2 separate regions of the Homo sapiens genome follow, and region 1 is linked to region 2. Evidence: fine-mapped expression QTL. A gene starts in region 2. The other region holds a variant in brackets. All regions are shown on one strand. Distances are from middle to middle. Region 1 overlaps IL16 (interleukin 16). Region 2 holds the start of IL16 (interleukin 16).

Region 1 (9,890 bases), 120 kb before region 2:
CTCCTCCCATGACCAAACCTTGTGTTCTAGAATGTTCTTTTCTCTGATATTCTTGACAAGCTTGGGAAAGCTATGTGCATGTTTATGTGTGAATGTGGATGAGTGAGTGTGTGTGAGTGCAAGTGTGTGTGTGTCTGTGTGTGAGTTTGTGTACACGCATGTGAGAGTGTATTTGTATGTGTGAGTGTAAGGGGCAGTAGGGTGGGAGTAGGGGGAACTCACGCCAAGAGGCAGGAGTCCCTCACAGACTCCAGGGCTGCAGGTAGTCTGGTCTGTGTGCTCTATGGCACCCCAATGGCAGTGACCTGACCGTCTGAAGTTGTAACTCACCGAGATTCTGCACTGTCTTCCAGCCACCCATGTGGAGCATCCGTTATGTCCCCCGAAGCCAGGTTTTGTGAGAGGATTTAACCATCCTTGTGGTTGCTTCTGTGAACCTCTTCCAGGGTAAGGATAATTTCCTGCATTGAGGTACATGGCTCAGACCTAACTGTGACTTCCCTGTGGACCTTCTGTGAAAAGGGGCACTTTGACTACGATTCAAAAGAAGAAAAATGCCTTATAGCTCTTTAGATTGTGACGATACAAAATACTTTCACACACATCTGCATAAGCAGAACCTCCTGAGAGTACCTGGCATGTGGGAAAGAATTGAGGGGAGGCGTTACTCTTATTTTTGATGCAGGAAATTTTCCCTGCAGCCTCCAGGTTAAGCAAATGTCATGGTCCATTTAGCAAATGAGGAAACTGAGGTTTGGGGAGGTTCAGTGATGTGTCCTGACTCAAAGGCTAGGAGGTTGGCAGGGCAGGGTCTGTGCTCCGAGTCCTCCCTGAATACCCTCCGCCAGGCAGGAGCAGCTTTGAGGATAGCAGTCCCCACCCCACATTTCACTCAGTGATCATCTCTCCTCGGCAAGGAATGTGGCGGAACTCAGGCCTAAAGGGCAGTTCTGAGACCACACTGTAAGTCAGCCTCAGAATTGACCCCGGGGACTCTCTGTTCCCATTTTGCCACAGGTCATGGCCAGGCTCTTGCCAGGAAATTTCTGTGTAATGAATTACCTGAAGGTCCCTTGTTTACCCTGGGAATCATGCATGTTGACAGCAAAAGAAACTGTGCCTTGCAGGTGTGTCCCGGTGTTCCCTGCAGTCTCCATACAGACACCCGGAGGGAAGGGGTCTGTCCTTCTACCACATTGTCCCAGGAGGTGGGCCTCGGTGTCGTGGGATTATACCAAGCCCAGACCTAGCACCTTTATGTTACCCTCTTTGCTAAGCTGGCTTTTCAGACATCATGTGAAGACTTTTCTTAGATGTAACAAAATTTTGAGTTTGAAAATAGCACAGCTGTGCTCTACCACACACAGACATACACACCTGCACTCAGTTTCAGTTCTCCCAATATATAGGTGCCCTGGATCCCCTGGCCTGGGCTCATTTCCTTGTCCTCTCCCACCTGGTAGTCAGATGCTAAGACTCACCTTTCAGTGGTGCCGGGTCTGACAGAGAGGAATTTTCAGAATAAGAGGCAGAGTCCTTCCTTCTGAGGGGCTGAATCCCATTGCTGTCTTCTTTTTGGTGGAATGCACAATATAATGGGTAGCATCACGCCCTCATGCCAGGTAGCAAAGGTATCACATGGATTTTTTTTTTTTTTTTTTGAGACGGAGTTTGGCTGTCACCCAGGCCGGAGTGCAGTGGTGCAATCTTGGCTCACTGCAACCTCTGCCTCCCAGGCTCAAGCGATTCTCCTGCCTCAGCCTCCCGAGTAGCTGGGATTACAGGTGCCTGCCACCATGCCTGGCTAATTTTTGTATTTTTAGTAGAGCCGGGGTTTCACCATGTTGTCCAGGCTGGTCTTGAACTCCTGACCTCAAATGATCCCCGTCTTGGCCTCCCAAAGTGCTGTGATTACAGGCGTGAGTCACCGCGCCTGGCCCGATTGCATGGATTTTGCTGAGAGGGTGGTTGGGGTCCCACAAAACCCTGCCCATATGAAGGTTTTAACTCAAGTGTTGACTCTTCCAACTCCTCTCCACTTGATTAAAAACATCACGTGTTCTCTGTAAAGCTTTCTTCCAGAGCCTGCTGTGTGCAGTTATTCTCATGAGGCTGTGGATCTGAAATCTGTGACAATGATTATTCTCTTATTATTCTGTGAAGATAGGCCTATTCTGGACCCTAGATTCAGCAGACAATAATAACAGCAGCAGCAGCAGCAAACATTTATACAGCATTACTGTGTGTCAGCCACTATTGTAAGCACTTCATATAAATTAACTGTTTTTATAACAACCGTAAGGCACTGTTGTGATCCTCATTTTTAAAATAAGAATGGTGGGTGCACAGAGAGGTTTAGTAACTAACCCAAGGTCACACAGCCAGCAAGTAAGAGAGCCACAGTCTCATTCTGGCCATCTGGCTCCAGAATCTGGGCTCTTAACCCAGATATTGATGTCTCAAAACAGCTAGAGTGTCTGCCCTCTTAGAACTTAGATTCCAATGAAGGCAGGAGGAGACAGACAAAACACAAATGTAAGTAGTTCTATCTCGTGGATGTGCTAGTAAGTATCAGACGTTAAGTGCCTTGGGGAAAACTAAACCCAGATAAAGGTGCCAGGGAAAGGTGTGAGTGGGTTATCTAGGGGGTTTCCCTAATAAGACGTTTGAGCAAGGCACAAATGCAGGGAGTCTTGGGCGTGTTGGTGGAGCGAGCATTCTGGCAGGGGGATGAGCAGATGCAAAGTCCCAGAAGTGGGAGCAGGAGCCGGAGCAAGAGCGGGGCCTTTGAGGAACAGCACAGAGGGAGGTGTTGTGTTAGCAAGAGGAGAGGCTAGGACATTCGGCCCATGAGGTAGCAGGGGCCGCAGCCTGTTGGGGACTTTCCTCTGAATAAAATGGGAAGCCACTGGGGAGGCCTGAGCAGGACATGGTCTGACTTTGGTCTTAACTGCTATGATGCCCTGCTTCCCCAAAGAGGGTGAACTCCAGGGGACAGGGACTTCCTTCCATCTCAAAGCCTTAGCATCGTCTGCACTCCACCCTCTCCCTCACCCACCAACCCCTGCCCATCCCGCCTTTGCTAGGGCCTTCTCTCTCCTCTTGCTCTCTTGAGTAAGAGGCTGTGAGCAAGAGGGCAAGAGGACTCATTGGGGGTGAGGTGGTGTTGAGGCCAGAGGTGGTGGTGGTTGAGCTCCAAGTGGCGCGGGGGGCGGGGGAAAGGTGTTCTTAAGGTGGAGGAGCCTGTATCTGTGGTCGAGGCAGCATTACAGTGTCATTTCTGGAGCACTTGCACTGTGCACAGGAAGGATGCTAAGTGCGTCACACCTACTCTCATTAAATCCTTCTAGCAACCGTAGTGGATGCCTTCATCCCAGCCTTTTCTGAGGGGAGACTGGGTGACCTACAATTCCTCTGTGCCCCCTTTTGCCCTTTCTGTTGTTGTCACATAATGGTGTACATGCAAGAGCTACCACTCACCAAGGCCACTGTGACGAAGAGAGTTTGTCCCATCCCACATGGCCTCTCACACGTTCCGCCCACCACAAAGCCCATTCCTCACCCAGAGGGAAACATGATCACGGAGTCTCATTTCTCACTCACCTGTTCATGTTTCCAAAGAGGATGCTGCTGAGAGGTGATGCGGGCCAGAGGAAGCCCATTGGGAGGAGGAGCAGGGAGGAGAGAGAAGGCTCTAGCAGAGGCGGGATGGGCAGGGGTTGGTGGGTGAGGGAAAGGTGGAGTGCGGATGATGCTAGGACTTTGAGATGGAAGGAAGTCTCTGTCCCCTGGAGTTCACCCTCTTTGGGGAAGCAGGGCACAAGCAGAGGAGAAAAGCCACAGCCCAGAGGAGCACATGCTCTCCCACCTTGTGGATCTGCTGGCCCCATCCTGTTCCATGCCCCAGTTGTCCTTCTGTATGACTTGAAGAGTGAGATTCTTTTTTTTTTTTTTTTTTTTTTCTTTTTTGAGGTGGGGTTTTGCTCTTGTCACCCAGGCTGGAGTGCAATGGTGTAATCTCGGCTCACTGCAACCTCCGCCTCCCAGGTTCAAGCGATTCTCCTGCCTCAGCCTCCTGAGTAGCTGGGATTATAGGCACCTGCCACTATGCCTGGCTAACTTTTGTATGTTTAGTAGAGATGGGGTTTCCCCTTGTTGTCCAGATTGGTCTCGAACTCCTGACCTCAGGTGATCCACCTGCCTCGACCTCCCAAAGGTGCTGGGATTACAGGCATGAGCCACCGTGCTTGGCCCTGGGGAGTGGGATTCTAAAAGGTCTCCAGTTCCAAACCTGTAGCCTGCATGATGTCAGGAAACATCTGATGGGCAGGCATAGTGCTACCTGGGGTTCCTGGTGAGGCTGAGTGGACAGTTGCATTCAAGTAAAATGCCAAATGCACACCACAAAGCCTATACCACCTTTGTTGTCCTGGCCGTTGAGAAGTTTGTCACAGTGAAGATCGCTTCCTGTCCCTACCAAGTTGTGTTCCATCTCCACATCGTGTGCCCCTTTGATTCTGGACTTCCAGTCAGCATCTGTGCCACCTGCCGTCCTCTGAGCTTCTGCCACCCCTTGGCCAAAATCCCTTCATAGGTGCTCAAATTATTCGCCAGTTCTCTAAATAGCAGTTCTCAAAATTTTGGCATAAGGCATTATTATACCCTTACATATATTTGAGGGCTTCATAGGGCCTTTGTTCTTGGGGGTTATAGCTATCATTATTTGATGTATTTGAAATTGTAACTGGTAAATTTGAGAAATGTTAAAAATATTTTAACATAAAAATGCACTGCATGTTAACATAGATAACATTTTTATTTTAAAAAACTATTTTTTTAAAACAAAAAATACTGTGAAAAGAGTGGCATTGTTTTTATATTTTTGCCCATCTCTTTCATGCCAGGCTTAACAGAAACTCATACCTGCTTGTGCGTGTAGTCTGTTGCAATATCACATATCATGTAACCTCCGGAAAACCCCACTGTATGCATGTGAGAGAAGGCGAATCACATGTTCGTGTTGTTATAAAAATAGTGTTAACTTTGTAGACCCCTTGAAAGGGTCCCAGGAGCCCCCAGGAGGTTGCAGACCCTAAATAGTGAAGGGCAGCATCTCTTCGTTCCTCTCAGGGCCTGGCACAAAGTGAGTTCTCTGAAAGCATTTGCTGAGTGAATCGGGCAGCAGGGTACTGGGTTTTTGGGCTGGGAGTAGGGACTTCTTCCTCCCTGGAGGCCGGGAGAGGCTGTGGAATGCATCCCCGACAGGATGGGTTTCCATCCTGAAAATCAGCAGGTCCAGAGAGGACTCCTGGGTGGAGGGCACAGCAAGGGATGAGACGCGATCACTGTATCATGGCCATTTCCACTGGGCTGGGCTCTGCTCACCTGCCTGGCGCTCGTCCCCAGCACCTCTGCTGCAGATCATAACACAGCTCTGCTGTTGCCTTCACAGGGAACCCACCAAGACCAACCTGGTCACATTCTTCCATACCGACCTCAGCGGTTACCTCCCACAGAACGTGGTGGACTCCTTCTTCCCCCGCAGCATGACCCGGTTTTATGCCAACCTTCAGAAAGCAGTGAA[G/A]CAATTCCATGAGTAATGCTATCGTTACTTCTTGGCAAAGAACTCCCGTGACTCATCGAGGAGCTCCAGCTGTTGGGACACCAAGGAGCCTGGGAGCACGCAGAGGCCTGTGTTCACTCTTTGGAACAAGCTGATGGACTGCGCATCTCTGAGAATGCCAACCAGAGGCGGCAGCCCACCCTTCCTGCCTCCTGCCCCACTCAGGGTTGGCGTGTGATGAGCCATTCATGTGTTCCAAACTCCATCTGCCTGTTACCCAAACACGCCTCTCCTGGCAGGGTAGACCCAGGCCTCTAACCATCTGACAGAGACTCGGCCTGGACACCATGCGATGCACTCTGGCACCAAGGCTTTATGTGCCCATCACTCTCAGAGACCACGTTTCCCTGACTGTCATAGAGAATCATCATCGCCACTGAAAACCAGGCCCTGTTGCCTTTTAAGCATGTACCGCTCCCTCAGTCCTGTGCTGCAGCCCCCCAAATATATTTTTCTGATATAGACCTTGTATATGGCTTTAATGCCGCAAAATATTTATTTTTCCTTAAAAAAGGTGTCAACTTGGAAATAATGGTTTAAAAACAGGATAAGCATTAAGGAAAAACACTTTCAATGTGTCTTCCATTTGATGAATTTGTTTTTCTCTCTTTATCCCCGCAAGGTGGAGTTTCATGTCCTCGGTGAAACCAGACAGTGTGAATCTGTTCCAGCCCAAATCTGCAGCATTAGGGATGAGTTCTCAGAAGTGATTCTGAACTGAGCACGCACTCATGTCTGCATGGGGAACTCTGGGGAGAAGAGCCTTCCTTTTCTTTCCCTTGGGCATTTGCCTTTCCTTGTCGTCTTACTGAGGCGGAGGCAGGAGGTCTCTGTCTTCCAGGCCCTGGCCAGGCCATCCTGCCATCAGGAAAGATGGAAGAGTAGGCCTCCGTCTAGCAGCCCTGGCTGGAAATCCCCCCTCTAGATCCTGCTGCAAGACTGTACAAACTCACAGGGGCCATGTCCACCCAGGCACATCATCAGAACCAGGGAGCACAGCCTTGCCACCTAGAAGGGGCCTCAGCAGCCGTGCAACTTTCTTTCCCTATCTCCAATCCAGAGAGGGATCCTCTAACATTCTCTAGCAACCTCATCTGCACCCCCACCACCTTCCTTGTAAGAAAGACCACGTGTGACTAAAATCCCTTCACGCTGCATTTACCCAGGTTACTATTGTGCGCGCAAAATGTTTTCACAGTGTTCTCAGCCTTTGCTCCTCCAAACAGAAAACGTTTCCCCTGCGTTACTGTTACTTCCCTATTTTTGAGTCCTGGGGTGACTGTCTCTTAAATGTGCCAAGATGTGAGCAAGCTTTAAAACATGACAGCTCAGTGTTAAGGAGACAGAAAGCTTCCTCTTTCTCTGTTCTATTGCAACTACAAATTCTACAGTCATGCCTAAGATCCTTTAGCTAACACCCTTTTCAAGAAATCATCAGACTCTTGGATTGACTTAGAATTCATTCATTCATTAAGTGCTTACCGAGTCCCCGCTCTGTGGCAAGCACTGTTCTATATCAACTTCTCATGAGTTCAGCCAATTCTAGGTGCACCAGCCAAGGAAACTTCATGCCTGCCCTCTCTGAGCTCCATACTCTGAGGTGGTGGTCTTATCAAGATGGGATCGCCTTGTACATCCCTGTGTAGCCAAGTGGAAGGCCAGCCAACCAAGAATGCATCTCACTGGGCCTATGGGACATACTGTGCCTGCACTGCTCCTCCACGTGACTGCATCAGGTTAAACTGGTCAGAGCCCTGGATGAGGAGCTGGAAAACATGCATCCAGTCCAAGCTCTGCCACTTGGGCCAAGTGTGCTCTTGAACAGTCACTTAATATATCTGCTTTGATTTGTCTTTTAAAGAAAATATGGAGGCAGGAATACCAGTGTCAGTGTAGCCTGCTTCTTGAGTGTTGGCACAAGTGAGATAATGTATGAATCAGTAAAATGCTGGGCAAAGCAAAGAAGTAGGGCTGCCTGGGAGTGGATTCCTTTTTATGGTGAGTTAAGACGACTTCACAATTGTTAGCTGTGATGCCTGCAGTGTTTGAGGATGGCATTGCCTTCATCCTGTGTCAGCTCTGAAGAAGTTGGCAGAGCAAAGCTAAGCCTCAAGTGTAAATCCCAGCATCATGGAACGCAAATGGATGAGCTTTTGTTTTAGGATCTTCTTGCTGATTCCTACCCAGAGGACTTCCCCAGCCTAGAGACCAGAAACCTGGGCAATAGTTATATCTTCAGTGGCCCTAGGAGTTGTTGTGTCTCCTTGGGGAGGAGAGAACCTTCTAAAACAGGCCAGAGACAGGAGGTACTGGGAGGGCCATGGGCTCACCTGCATCTATGCCCAGATAACCTGGGACAGATAACCTCTGTCCCAATCACTTGCTTTGCCTGGTCTCTCAAGGAGTCTCTTGGTACCCCAGGCCCACGGCCAGCTCCATGCTCATCCCTGTCCCCACCTTCCAGTCTTGATGAAAACCCACCTTCTCTTTCATCCCTTGGCTGCTTGATAAGACTTAAAACAATTCCCTGATTTTAGGGAAGGCCACTGCGTGCACAGATGGTGAGTTTGTGCAGGCAAGGAATGTGCCCTCCACATCACGTGGCCTCCTTGCCCAGCCTGGGTCATGGGAAGGGAGTGTTGAATTGAATCACGTCTTTCGTTGGTAGATTATGTTCATCTTCAATGTTTCTATTAAGTCTAAAAAGTGGATACAAATGGTGCCTCCAAGTTCTTGTCTAATTGCTTGTCTACTGCTTGACAAAATCCAGAATGGAATAGGCCAAACAAGTTAACCAGCAGGACAGAAACTGCTCTAAGCCCATTATTCCTTGAGATGAATAGAACAGTGAGCTGAACGCCTGCTCTAATGAAGCCACTAAAGGGGTTTACAGGAAGGTTAGGAGCCCAGATGGGTTTTGAGTCCACTGCTGGGAAACAGATTCTTCACTTCCTGTGGACCCTGGAGAAGCCATCAGATTACATTAACATGGCTCCACTGATGATGGCCTGAGAATTACTATTGTTTGTGTTTCATCTGTGTCCTTGCCAGGTCTTCCCCCACATCCTTACTTCACAGGATCAGGGGCTGAGAGGAGACCAATACTCTGGCCCAGGCCTGGTCAAGGGATGCTGGTTGTTGCTGATGCAAAGTCACATTGCCTGGTCCTGAGCTTGGCAATCAGGCATCCAGAGATGGCCAAACCAAATATCCCTTTGGCCAGGCACTCAGGCATTCCCTGTAATGTTGTGCACTTAAAGCATCTTGGGCTGATAGTCTCCACCGAATCACAGAAGAAAACTCAATCTGCCGCATCACTCACCAGCTGGATAAGCCATTTACTGTACACAGTGTGTGCCCTCTTATCAATACATTGGCACAGAACCATACACCGTAGAAGCTGCTGTGATCACTAAAGGCAATGCCCGTTTAGCCCTGAGCACAGTGCTTGGCATGTGGTAGGTAAGTAGTAGCAATTTTATTTGATACCCTCATATACACGCTGGTTCCTTCTGTCGGCACACCTGTCCACGCTTTGAGCTTGGTGCTTCACCTGTACTCCTCTGTTTACTGGCTCCACCACCCTTCCCTAGGATTACTTCTCCAATCCAACCAAAAACAATTTTGCAAATGTTTCATGTGACAAACTGTATTTTTCATAAATGACCCCAGCAATATTTCCTCTCCCCTTAAACCCAGGCAGGTTTGTGTCAGCTCTAACTGATGGAGTATGGTGGAGGTGATGCCATGCAACTTCCAAGGCAAAGGTATAAACAAGATGCAGCTTCTACATGGCTCTTGCGATCCTGGGATGCTCATCCTGGGAATCCAGACACCATGTTGTGAGGAGGCCCAGGCCACAAGGAGAGGCCACCTATAAGCATTCAGGCCAGCAGCCCCAGGTGAGTTCCCAGCCAACATCAACGGCCAGATGTATGAGTGAATGATCTCACGTGGTCCCAGCCTTTGCATGACTTTGCATGACGCCAGCTGATGCCAAGTGGGACAGAGATGAGCTGCCCATTCCAATCTCTGCCCACATTGCAGATTCATGAGAAAAATAAATGTCACTGTTTGGGGGTGAATCATGACACAGTTACAGTACTTGAAACATTTTGCGAAGCCAGGCATGAATGTCATATGAAATTCTAATAAATCCATTTTATTTGTGGCACCACAATATTATCATTAAGCTCTCTTTTTACACAGTCTGCAATTTGTATCAGCTGCCCCCGTGTGACTCTGCCCTTATTTTAGGAACAACCTT
Region 2 (11,834 bases):
AAAGCAATGGCAACAAAAGACAAAATTGACCAATGGGATCTAATTAAACTAAAGAGCTTCTGCACAGCAAAAGAAACTACCATCAGAGTGAACAGGCAACTGACAGAATGGGAGAAAATTTTTGCAACCTACTCATCTGACAAAGGGCTAATATCCAGAATCTACAATGAACTCAAACAAATTTACAAGAAAAAAACAACCCCATCAAAAAGTGGGTGAAGGATATGAACAGACACTTCTCAAAAGAAGACATTTACGCAGCCAACAGACACATGAAAAAGTGCTCATCATCACTGGCCATCAGAGAAATGCAAATCAAAACCACAATGAGATATCATCTCACACCAGTTAGAATGGTGATCATTAAAAAGTCAGGAAACAACAGGTGCTGGAGAGGATGTGGAGAAATAGGAACACTTTTACACTGTTGGTGGGACTGTAAACTAGTTCAACCATTGTGGAAGTCAGTGTGGCGATTCCTCAGGGATCTAGAACTAGGAATACCATTTGACCCAGCCATCCCATTACTGGGTATATACCCAAAAGATTATAAATCATGCTGCTATAAAGACACATGCACACGTATGTTTATTGGGGCACTATTCACAATAGCAAAGACTTGGAACCAACCTAAATGTCCAACAATGATAGACTGGATTAAGAAAATGTGGCACATATACACCATGGAATACTATGCAGCCATAAAAAATGATGAGTTCATGTCCTTTGTAGGGACATGGATGAAACTGGAAACCATCATTCTCAGCAAACTATTGCAAGGACAAAAAACCAAACACTGCATGTTCTCACTCATAGGTGGAATTGAACAATGAGAACACATGGACACAGGAAGGGGAACATCACACACTGGGGACTGTTGTGGGTGTAGGGAGGGGGGAGGGATAGCATTAGGAGATATGCCTTCCAAATTTTCTATAGTCCTTGATGATGCTAAATTTTCATCACTCTTCAAACCCTATTTTTGGATAACACTTCTTTAAAATGAAACCACAAACCAATACAGACCCCCAAAGCTGTCTGTGCTCTGAGAACAGGTTCTTCCACTACCAAAGCACTCATCTGATGCTACTCCAGTGGCTTGTGTCACCACTGGTCATGTCTACTGAACTCTAAGCTCCCTGAGGGCAGAGTCTGTCTGTCATATTTCGAGTTGATCCATGAGGCCTAGCTTGGCGAATGGCCTCTATCAATTGCTCAGTAAATATTTGTTGAATGACTAAGGATGATTGCATTTAATGTTTAAAGGTGTTCTCTGGCCAGATAAAATGTATAAAGTAGGAAAAGACATTTTACATACTGTACAACACCTTTGCTTGGGCTAATTCTTCTGGGGAACTAATAGTTCACTTAGTAACCCCATCTCTGGTTCAAATCTGATGAATTGCCTATGCTTACTTGCCTTATATTGTAAGTGATCATCAAGATACATGGAATACTGTTGAGATATGGAGAAGAATGAGGTTAAGTCTTTTTGTGCTACATAGAATTGGAAAACAAAACATGCTGCAGCACAGTGTGTGCGCGTGTGTGTGTCTGATGCTAGAATAAATCAGAGAGAATACTCAACAAGCTGTTATTGAAGAGCAGAGAATGGGTAAAAACTGATTACTCTACATTTTACTAATTACAGCATTTTTACCAAACACAAAATTTAATATTAAAGATTAAAATACAAAGTGGCAATATAATAAATTGCTAATAAATTTGTATACACCACTTAACTACAACCTAAAAAGAAAAAGAGGGAAAAACAAAAACCACAAACTTAAAACAAAGAAACCCAAAATATGATCTGCCTACTGGAAGAAATAGAAGTAGGAAAGTGGCTCAAAAAGTTGTTCGTGGATGAACAACTAAGATCTCCTTCCTGGAGAACTAAGGGCAGGGCCATTAAATTAGACATTTCGTGATCTCTAAATAGAACTGAGAGGAGATTCAAAGAAATGCAAAATAACAGCTATAGAGCATTATGGAGTCTTTGGCCTGAAAGAATTTTTCAGATTTTGATGGTCCAACTGCTGTCATTTACTTCTGTGTGTGTGTGTGTGGATGGGGGTGTGTGCGTGCATGTGTGTGGGTGTATGTGTGATTGCTTTGGCTTGAGTTTTGGTAAGAAATTACATATCATGTCTTTTAAGATTATTTTTAGATATATTTCTCTTTTTCACCACACATACACACACACACACACAGAGACACACACACACTTTTTATTTTCTGCTTCTGACAACTAGCTCAATGCAGGGGATGCATTGTCCTGCCACTGCTTCAGTAAATGTGACAGGTATCCTGTGTTCTCAGCAACTGCTGCAGGATTCTCTGGCATCTGCACTTTGGCTGGAGTTGGCTACAACCATCCTTGGAGGATGAGGAGAAGGAAGGAAGAGAGGGAAAGCGCATAAGACTGGGCCACCTGTCCACCTTCTCCAACCCTCACCATTGCTCGAGGCTCTCTTAATCCATTTATGAGGAGGTAAGTACAGAAAAAAAGACAGATGAGCTTATGGCTGACTCAGGCCTGAAATCCTTGCCTTGGATAATGGGAAGAAGGCCATCTTTTTGAAAGAGAAGATCAGGAATATTTCAGTTACAATACTCTCCTGACACATTTTCACCATTCCAAACTCCACCCAGTGTTCTACAGGACTATTTATGAAACTTTTAAAATCTTGACCTAGGCTAGGCATGGTGGCTCACGACTTTAATTCCAGCACTTTGGGAGGTTGAGGCGAGCAGATCACTCGAGCTCAAGAGTTTGAGACCAGCCTGGCCAACATGGCAAAACCCCATCTCTAATAAAAATACAAAAAATTATCCAGGTGTGGTGGCGTGTGCCTGTAGTCCCAGCTACTCGGGAGGCTGAAGGGGGAGAATCACCTGAGCTCACGGAGTCAAGGCTGCAGTGAGCCGGGATTGCACTGCTGAACTCCAGCCTGGGCAACAGAGTGAGACCCTGTTTCAAAAAATAAATAGATAAATAAATAAAAATAATTTTTAAAGAATTTTAAAAATTAAAAAAATCTTGACTTACCATAATAATTTACATTTTACATCATAGTACATGGATCACATACACATAAGATTTATATGTATACATAAATAAATAAATATATATAACTAAAAACTTTCATGAAACAATACCTTTACTACGGTATAATAAAAATAATATAAAATATCTTTGGTATGAAAAAGATAATATAAAATATGATTTTGCTAAGAACCTGATGCAATCTGATGTATGCTATTCTTTTTTTGTTTTAGAAAAAGGAAGTTGGTTCCAACCCGCTAAGTTGATTTTCAATCCACTAGTGGGTCATGCTTGAAAACCACTACTTTCAGGTTTTCTCTGATTTTTTACAGCAATTCCATATGGGGTATTTGCTTTGATTCCTCATTTAGCTCCCTTCTTTGGGCCACTGAATCTTGTCATATGTGCATTGATTTTGCCGCATTTGCTCAGCCCTACTCAAGAGGTCTGTGCTTACTCAGATTCGGGAGCTGGGATGAGTTCTGAAATTCCTCGTTGGAATCTTTCATATGCCGATGCCAGACTGCAGAAAGGGCTTAGATTTCCTGTGGCTTTTCTTTGCCAGGTGAGAGGTGCAGTGAGCAGCAGGGAAGGTGCACCATTCCCCAGCATCCAAGTTCTCAGGGGAGCCTTGAACCTTTGGAAGGGATGTTTGTAGGTGACCGCCTCCTATTGGCTGAGCAAGGTAGCCATGTCTTAGCTGCTGTAACTGTCCACTGGAGGAGCATTTCCATCCCAGCTGCACATGCCAAGACTCAGCCAGGGGCAAGACCGATGGAGATCTCCACGCGGGATCCCAGCATCGGGTCACTGTCCAGCATTACCAGTTGCTCCCACTCAAAGCAAACCTCTCCTCCAGCATCTCCAGATGTGGCAAGAACAGCGCCTCCCTCCTGATGGGCTCCGCCCTTCCACCCAACGTCCTTCACATCCACCTGAGACATCCACTGAGACTTCTCAGTGTTTCTGGCACACACTGAGCAACACTGTCTAGTTTACAAGACTGACATAGATTCGTCCTTATTTCAACAGGAATTCAAAAGAAGAACTTGAAGTAAATTCCTGATTTCAAGCTGCCTTCCTAGTTAACCACAACTCCAAGTTCTTGGAACTATTTGTTTATTTTGCCCCATGCCTATTTTCTCCCCGTGTTTATGAGCATATTGCTATTCACAATGAATTGCTTTTTAATAGCAAAACGTAACCTATATATGAAAATGTATTACCAATTCAAATGCACAATAAAAAATATGTATTTTATATATATATATATATATATATATATATATTTTTTTTTTTTGAGATGGAGTCTCCCTCTGTCACCCAGGCTGGAGTGCAGTGGCATGATCTCGGCTCACTGCAGTCTCCGCCTCCCGGGTTCAAGCAATTCTCCTGCCTCAGCCTCTTGAGTAGCTGGGATTACAGGCATGTGCCTCCACGCCTGGCTAATTTTTGTATTTTTAGTAGAAACAGGGTTTCACCATGTTGGCCAGCCTGGTCAGGAACTCCTGACCTCAAGTGATCCGCCCGCCTCGGCCTCTCAAATTGCTGGGATTACAGGCGTGAGCCACTGTACCTGGCCAGTAGATTTCAATTCAAAGTGTACCTCCCTCCCTCTCACTCCTATACCCCTGGGCCACTGCTGGGAACCAGAAAGGGGGAGGGGTTGACAAAAGGGCAGGTCTCAAGGTCCTGGTCTGCCTCTGCCAAAATAATTCTGCCTTAACTGATTATACATGAGTTTTCATGATAGATTTTAATTCTAAAAAGGTTTCCATGAATACAAACAATTAGAAAATAATAATTCTATAGTCAATTGCATCCAACAGAGATTATTTTTTAACCCTATGGATATATGACCATCTTTGTGTTGAGGAAACTCAAGTATTTATTGAGGCATGCCACAAAGCCAGTGAGAGCATGGATTTTGGAGTCAAGCTGGGTTTGGGTCCTGGGAACGTCTAGCTGAGTGGTCCTGTGCAAGCCTCCTCACCTCTCGGTTTGGGGATATACTCCCTAAGCTCCAGGTTGTTGTAAGGTTTAAATTAAATGAGGTATGTGAATATTTTAGCTTGGTGCCTGGGGCTTGAAGAGTGGCCAGGAAATGGTTGGGGTACTAAGTTTTATTTAAAAGACTCACTGGGGATTGAATAAATGAGCAGTAGAGGCTTCAAGGGTCTGACCCACCTGACGGCTCATGCCCACGTCATATCTGCAGCAGGGGAGGTGCCTTCTACTGTGCTCGTAAATGTTGACCATCACTTAACTTCAGGGTAAAGAAGGAGAACAGAGGAGGAAAAAGGCTGAACGGTCTTCTCCTTCCGGGGGAAACTGGAGAAATAGGAAGGGGAGCCACAGAGACGGCAGCTCCCAGGCTGCTTCCAGGAACCCAGTGGGAGCTTGAACTGGCCTCCTGGGACAAAGGGGTCGTCTTTGTATGGCTCAGCCTGAAGTGGGAGGATTTCACCTGATAAGGGCAGGAGGAGAAGATGCTTCCCTGTATTCCACAGGGAACCTCTATTCTTATGCTGTTACCTCATTCTCCAGCTACAGAAAGCAAACTTGCTATGGACCAAAAAAGAAAAAAACAAACAAACAAAAAACAAAAACAAAAAAACACCAATCCTGGGACCTACCAATGCAGGAATTAGTCACGGGACCCTTATCAAAAAGCAAGCAGAGTGAACACTTTTCCCATGGTCAATCTGCAGAGATGCCCACCCGCTGTGCCCACTTTGGAGAAAAGGAGTCTGGCCAGGCAGCAGAGAAGCCCCCATCAGGTGCCCCGTGGCCTTTCTCTCTCCTGCTGCCTTCCTTTCCTCCACCTCCTTCCACACCCCATTGCCAAGGATGAGACGAGGCTGAAAAGTCAGAAATCTCAGGACCAAATTCTCCCCGTGCTGCAGAGCCAGGTCAAGCGATATCCCTCTGCCCGCTCTGGCCTTCTGAAGCTGCTTCCTCCTGTACCTAACTGTGACATGGTGACACAGAGATTCCTACCAACACAATCCTGGCTTCTGCTCCTGCCCCTGACCCCAGCACCACTTCCAAATATGAAGTTACGTCCTAGCAACCAAGACCCTCCCCATTCAGGTCAGAGAGGCCAGCTTCCTCCCTCCGGTAACGGCCACCTGGACAGAGCAGCTGCCTGACAGACATTCACTCACCTGGTGCCCACCTACCTCCCTATGCACAGTCCCCCGGGGCTGCCATCTCCCTTGCTCCTCTCTCCATCTGCCCAGCAGGGATTGCAGCACCACTTATTCCCGGACAGCCTGTGGCCCAGGCCTGGGTCAGAGCCGGCAAGGATTGAGAAATGGACGCTCAGTTCTCAGACGGAGGCCGGCCTTTGAGTCAGATCCCAGGCTCCGATAGTTGAGATGCCGTGAGTAGGACACAATATTCACCACCTGCTCTGGACAGGTGACTCAGGACAAATGTGTCCCACCTGGCATGGATTTGCTCGAAGACTCCTGATCTGAGCCATCTGACTGCTCCACGTGAAAAGGCTTGATCCAAAAAGGGGGGCTGCCAGTGCTGAGAAGCTCAGCCTCAGAACAAGGTCCACCATCTGCTGGGCTGGCCGGCAACACCCAGGAGGCAAACCCAGTGCAGAGCCACAGAACCACAGTGAGGTTCCTTGGTCCAGCCCAGTTGCCCCTGCCTTCTTTGGACAACACAGAAATGACTAGGAGAGCCGAAAGGTAGCAGACATGACTCGGTGCCTGCAATGTGCCTGGCACGCTGCTAGGAGCTTTCTATAAACCTCATCACATGCTGGAAGCTGTGGCACGTGCCTATAATCCCAGCTACTCAGGAGGCTGAGGCAGAAGGATCACTTGAGCCGGGGGATTCAAGACAAGCCCGGGCAAACCATAGCAAGAACTCCTCTCAAATTATATAAAAATTTAATAAAAAGAGGAAAAAAGTCATCACATACAATCCTGCCATCAATCTGGTAAATATATCACCTGCTTTGCAGACAAAGAAAGCCACTGCACAAACGTTCATTAAACACCTACTACGTGCCGTGGAATTTCCCCAAGGTCACACAGTTAGCAAGTTAGCAAGTCAAAATCCACCTGTCTCCAAAGCCCAGGCTTTTTCCATAGCATTTCATTTCTTGTCTGTGCCACCCTTTCCCAAAAACAACAGACTGGCTCTCAGAAGCTTATGTAACTCAGTGGTCCTCAAGCCAGCTGCATCAGCAGCATCTGCTAGAAATGCAAGTTCTCAGGCCCTGGCCTAGACCTCCTGAAGCAGCACCTCTGGCACTCTGTTTTCACAAAGCCTCCAGGTGATTTTGGTGCGTGCTCAGGTGCGAGAGCCCATGACCTAACGTATACAGAGCATGTTGAAAACTGCAGCATAAAAGAATGGGGCACTTTTGTGTGTGTCCTGTTGGCATTAGTGTCATGAGACCAGAGTGCCTTTCCCCCACGTAGCCCCTTGGAGAATCTAATCATAAGGTGGCATTTAATCCATCTGCCCCGCAAAGAGCATCCCACACATCTCTCCTAAGCTCAGTCTCTGTGAGCCCTGTGTACATGCTAGGCTGAGGTTTTTGTATGGACCTCTCTTCTAAAGAATGGAATGTTTCCCAACGCTCAGCACCAAATGTTTCAGGGCTTCCTGGGGGCTTTAATGAGGGTGTAGGTGCAACCTGTAGGAAGCCCTTGAAATTCCATGCAAGGCTGCAAAGATCTAGCCGCTGCTGCTGGAGAACACAGGCCCACGGTCCCAAGGGAAGCACGGGAGGAGGGAGCACTCTGGGGATAAAGCTGCCTTTGTCAGCAGGCACAGGGGACATTGTAGGGCTGAGTCTGGAGTGAGTCTGGAGTGCAGTGAAGGAATTTCTAAATTGCAGAGAGTGAGCGCCTCTGTCAGTGTCGCCTGCTCAGCTCACACCCACAATCTCTCTCACAATGGCCTGGGTGCGGTGGGGCCAGGACAGACTCAGGCCCCACTTCCATCTTGCTCTGGCAGAGAGGCTGAGGAGCAATTCAGCACCCCAGGGCTATGGGGGCTGGCCTTGCCCTTCTTGGATCCTGAGGCCTGGGAGGGCCCCACAGCCCCCCTCCTCCACTAAGTCTAAGCTCTCTCTTGTCATCGGCACCTGAATCCAGTTCCCGCCTCTCCCTCTATTTTCCGAAGATCTGTTCTTTCTCACTCTCAGAAGGTAAATTTATTCCAAAGTGTAGTTGAGACTTGGCCCTGATTTTTCCTAATACGGGGTGGTTTGTGCTTCAAGGTGGAAATTTTATCACCCCTCTGCCCTTCAGGACATCCTGCAGAAAGAGTCTCCACCCTGCCCAACACTCCATAGTCCAGCTCACTGCAAGCCAGAAGAGACGGGGAGGAAGACGCAGGTGAGAGAGCCCCGCCCTGGTTAGAACTAGGAAGTTCAAGCACCACTTGAAGCTCAACCAAGAGCTTCCTGTGTGATCTTGGTCATTCACAGCCTTAGTTTGCTACGATGAAAATTAGATGAAATTAATTGTCTGCCAGATGAAATTAGAAACTTCTACTGCACAGTGTTACTGAGAGAATGAGGCAATAGAGGAGGAAGCATGCTGCCAACAGCTAACCAAGCAGAAGCCTGCTCACCTTTTTGGCCCTTCCAGCCCACGGAACTGAGAAATCTGTTCAACAAGTGATTCTGATGCTTGCTAAAGTTTCATAATCAATAACCTGTATTTCCTTCTAATTCTCCTATTTTTTAATTACAAAATTTTATTTCCAAAAGTAAATTTTTAATTACAAAAATTTTAATTACAAAATTAAAATTATAAATTTTGAAAAATTAATTTAAAAAATTTTAATTTTAAAAATTCTAATTTAATTTTTAAAAATTAAAATTACAATTACAAATTTAAATTTAATTTAAAAAATTAAAATTACAAAAATTTTTAATTTCAAAATTTTAGTTATAAAAGTAATACATGTTTGTTGTGGCAAGTAAACATATTCAGAAGGCAAAAAGAAAGTGTGTCCTTAAAATGACACAACAGGGTCATCTCCTATTCTGTTCAAACAATGGCAAAATAAAGAGCTTAGGGTCAGAGCAATAAGCCCCAGCTTCTGTACTAAGCGGCTCTGTCAACTGCAAGTCCTTTTACCTTACTGAGTCTCAGTTTCCATGTCCACAAAATGGAAACAATAACCCAATAATCTGACAGGGCTGCTCAGAGGTCTGAGCAAAGAGCTGTCCTGCAATCTATAAAATGCCTTGGGAATTCTTTATGCTGTACACTTTTGGTCATGCGAACTGTATTATCATGAGCAGAATATAATTTAACAATTTTAACTAGTAATGTAACAATTTTAACTAGTAATGTAACATGACGCAGAATATAATTTAACAATTTTAACTAGTAATGTAACAATTTTAACTAGTAATGTAATGTTACTAGTAATGTAACCTGACAGTAATGGACATGATGATAATAAATTCTCTCTGCATTTAGCACTTTCAACTTAGACAGAATGTTGAGGCCAAAACTTGATGATTTTATTGTACGTCCCCACTTACGGATGCAAACACTGAGACTCAGAGAAGTTACATGTCCAAAAAGTGCACGTCCAAGGCTGTGCAGTCAGAAGCCATTGGTCCCTTGATTCCCGCTCCCCGGCTCTCTTCCCCTCTTTCCCTGGCCCACAGCAACATATAGATTCAAACCAAGGGTTTTAACTTCATACGAAAATTCTAGCTGACTTCCATGTAGACCATGCTGCCCTCTCTCTGGCCTTTTTTTCTTTCAAACTGTCCATCAGGCTTGCATCCTTTCAAAGTAATATTCCATCACTAAGATACTTACAATCACGACAAGCAACTGAAGCCAGTCCACAAGCAAATATACCACGCACATGCCAACAACTCCCAAATTCACTTCTCCAGGCCTGGACTTCTCCTTGAATTCTGACTCTTTTTTCCTACCACTTGCTTAACATCTTCAGCTGGGGTTTAACTTAAATTTCAAAAGTAACATTGCCTGGCTGTTATTCAGTGAGGCAAAAAAAAGGAACACTGCCAACAGTACTCTTGATTCCCCCCCTAATAAAATGTTTCTTCCCTAAACTTCCACATTTTGGTAATTGTCACTAGCATCCATCAATTTCCCAAGCCAAAATCCTCAGTATCAAGGTGGGAAGAACATAGCACAGGCTCTGAAGCCAAAATTCCTGGGTTCATCTCGCAGGTCTGTCCCTGCCCAAGTGCATGATCATAGGCAGGCAAAAAGGCACTTCTCTGTGGACTGGTTTTGTCATCTATAGGCTGGCTAGTGCACTAACATCCACCTCACAAGGTTTGTTTGGGCTAAATATGGTAATACTTGTAAGGTTCTTAGAACAGTGCCTGCCAGAATAAGCCCTCTGTGAGTTTTTATTCATCTTGATCCCTCCATCTCTCTAACCTTCCACATCACATCCAATTTATCAGTGATTCTCGTTGGCTCTATCCCCAGAAGCTATCCCACTTTCTTTCCGCTTCTCTCCATCTTCACTGCCGCCACCCTCCTCTTACCAGTGCCTCTTGTCTGATTATAGCTTTCACCTTCTAACTGGGATTCTGGTTCCTATGCAGACCTTCATAATCCATTTTTCACATAATAGCAGGTAGGCTTTTTGAAAATATAAATTGGATCAGCATAAAATTTGCAAGGGCTTTGAATTACTTTTAAAAACTGTTTTTTGTTTGTTTGTTTGTTTTTGAGACAGCATCTTGCTCTGTGGCCCAGGCTGCAGGGTAGTGGTATGATCATAGCTAACTGCAGCCTTAAACTCCTGGCTCAAGCAATCCTCCAGCCTCAGCCTCCCGAGTAGCTAGGACAACAAGCACATGCCACCACATTTGGCTATTTTTTCTTTTTTCTTTTTTTTTGTAGAGACACGGTCTCTCTGTGTTGCCCAGGCTGGTCTTGAACTCCTGGCCTCAAGCAGTCCTCCTTCCTTGGCCTCCCAAAGTGCTGGGATTATAGGCATGAGCCACTGCACCCAACCACTTTTTTAAAAATTTAATAAACTTTATTGTTCTGAGCAGTTTTAGCTTTACAGAAATATTGCATAGAAAGTACAGAACTCCCGAATACTGATCTCCCTCTCCACACACACAATTTCCCATACTATTAACATCTTGCATTGGCGTGGTACCTTTTTACAATTGATAAATCAATACTGATACATGATTATTAGCTAAAGTTCATGGCTTACGTGATGGTTCACCCATTGTGTTGTGCAGTTCTATGGGTTCTGACAAGTGCATAGCGTTATGGATCTACCACTGTAGTATCAGACAGAGAGATATATTTACTGCCCCAAAAATGCCCTGTGCTCCACCCCTTCCAAAGGCTTTGCGTTGTTTTCCAAAATAATACCCAAATTCCTTACAGTGTCCCAAAGGAGCTAAATGATCTCACCCTTGTTTATCTCCCAAACTCCAGCTTCCACCTCTGCCTCTCCTGCTCGCTGCATCCCACAGCCACCCTGGCCTTCTGGCTCTTTCTTGAATAAGCCATGCCCTTGTCACCCTAAGACTTCTGCCCTAGCTGTTTTCTCTTACAGGAAAGTTCCACTTCCAGATCTTCATATGGCTGGCTCTTCCCTGACTCCATCTCCTAAGTGGGATCTTTCTTGACCACTCAACCTAAACCAGGCACTCACCGTTACCTCTCCTTATTTTATTTTCTTCATAGAACTTGCCAGCATTTGAAGCTGTCTTGTTAGTCTGCTTGGGTACTTACATACCACCCATCCGCCCCATCTAGGTCCCACACAGGGACCTCAT

Evidence for each region.
Region 1: its variant is fine-mapped to the expression of IL16 in whole blood (TOPMed, PIP above 0.99).

What each region holds. Positions count from the first base shown.
Region 1 is chr15:81,308,966-81,318,855 of GRCh38, reverse strand. IL16 (interleukin 16) reads right to left here. Exons shown (of 19, transcript NM_172217.5): 19 at 4,798-9,890. It overlaps STARD5 (StAR related lipid transfer domain containing 5), which reads left to right. Exons shown (of 6, transcript NM_181900.3): 5 at 354-447; 6 at 5,453-9,803. The coding sequence ends at 5,600. Among named protein-coding and RNA genes, the nearest start is that of STARD5, 10 kb to the left of the region's middle. RefSeq lists a silencer at 3,260-3,339 and an enhancer at 4,772-5,971. The variant G/A (reference allele first, on the strand shown) is at 5,585.
Region 2 is chr15:81,191,535-81,203,368 of GRCh38, reverse strand. IL16 (interleukin 16) reads right to left here and starts at 6,490. Exons shown (of 19, transcript NM_172217.5): 1 at 6,217-6,490.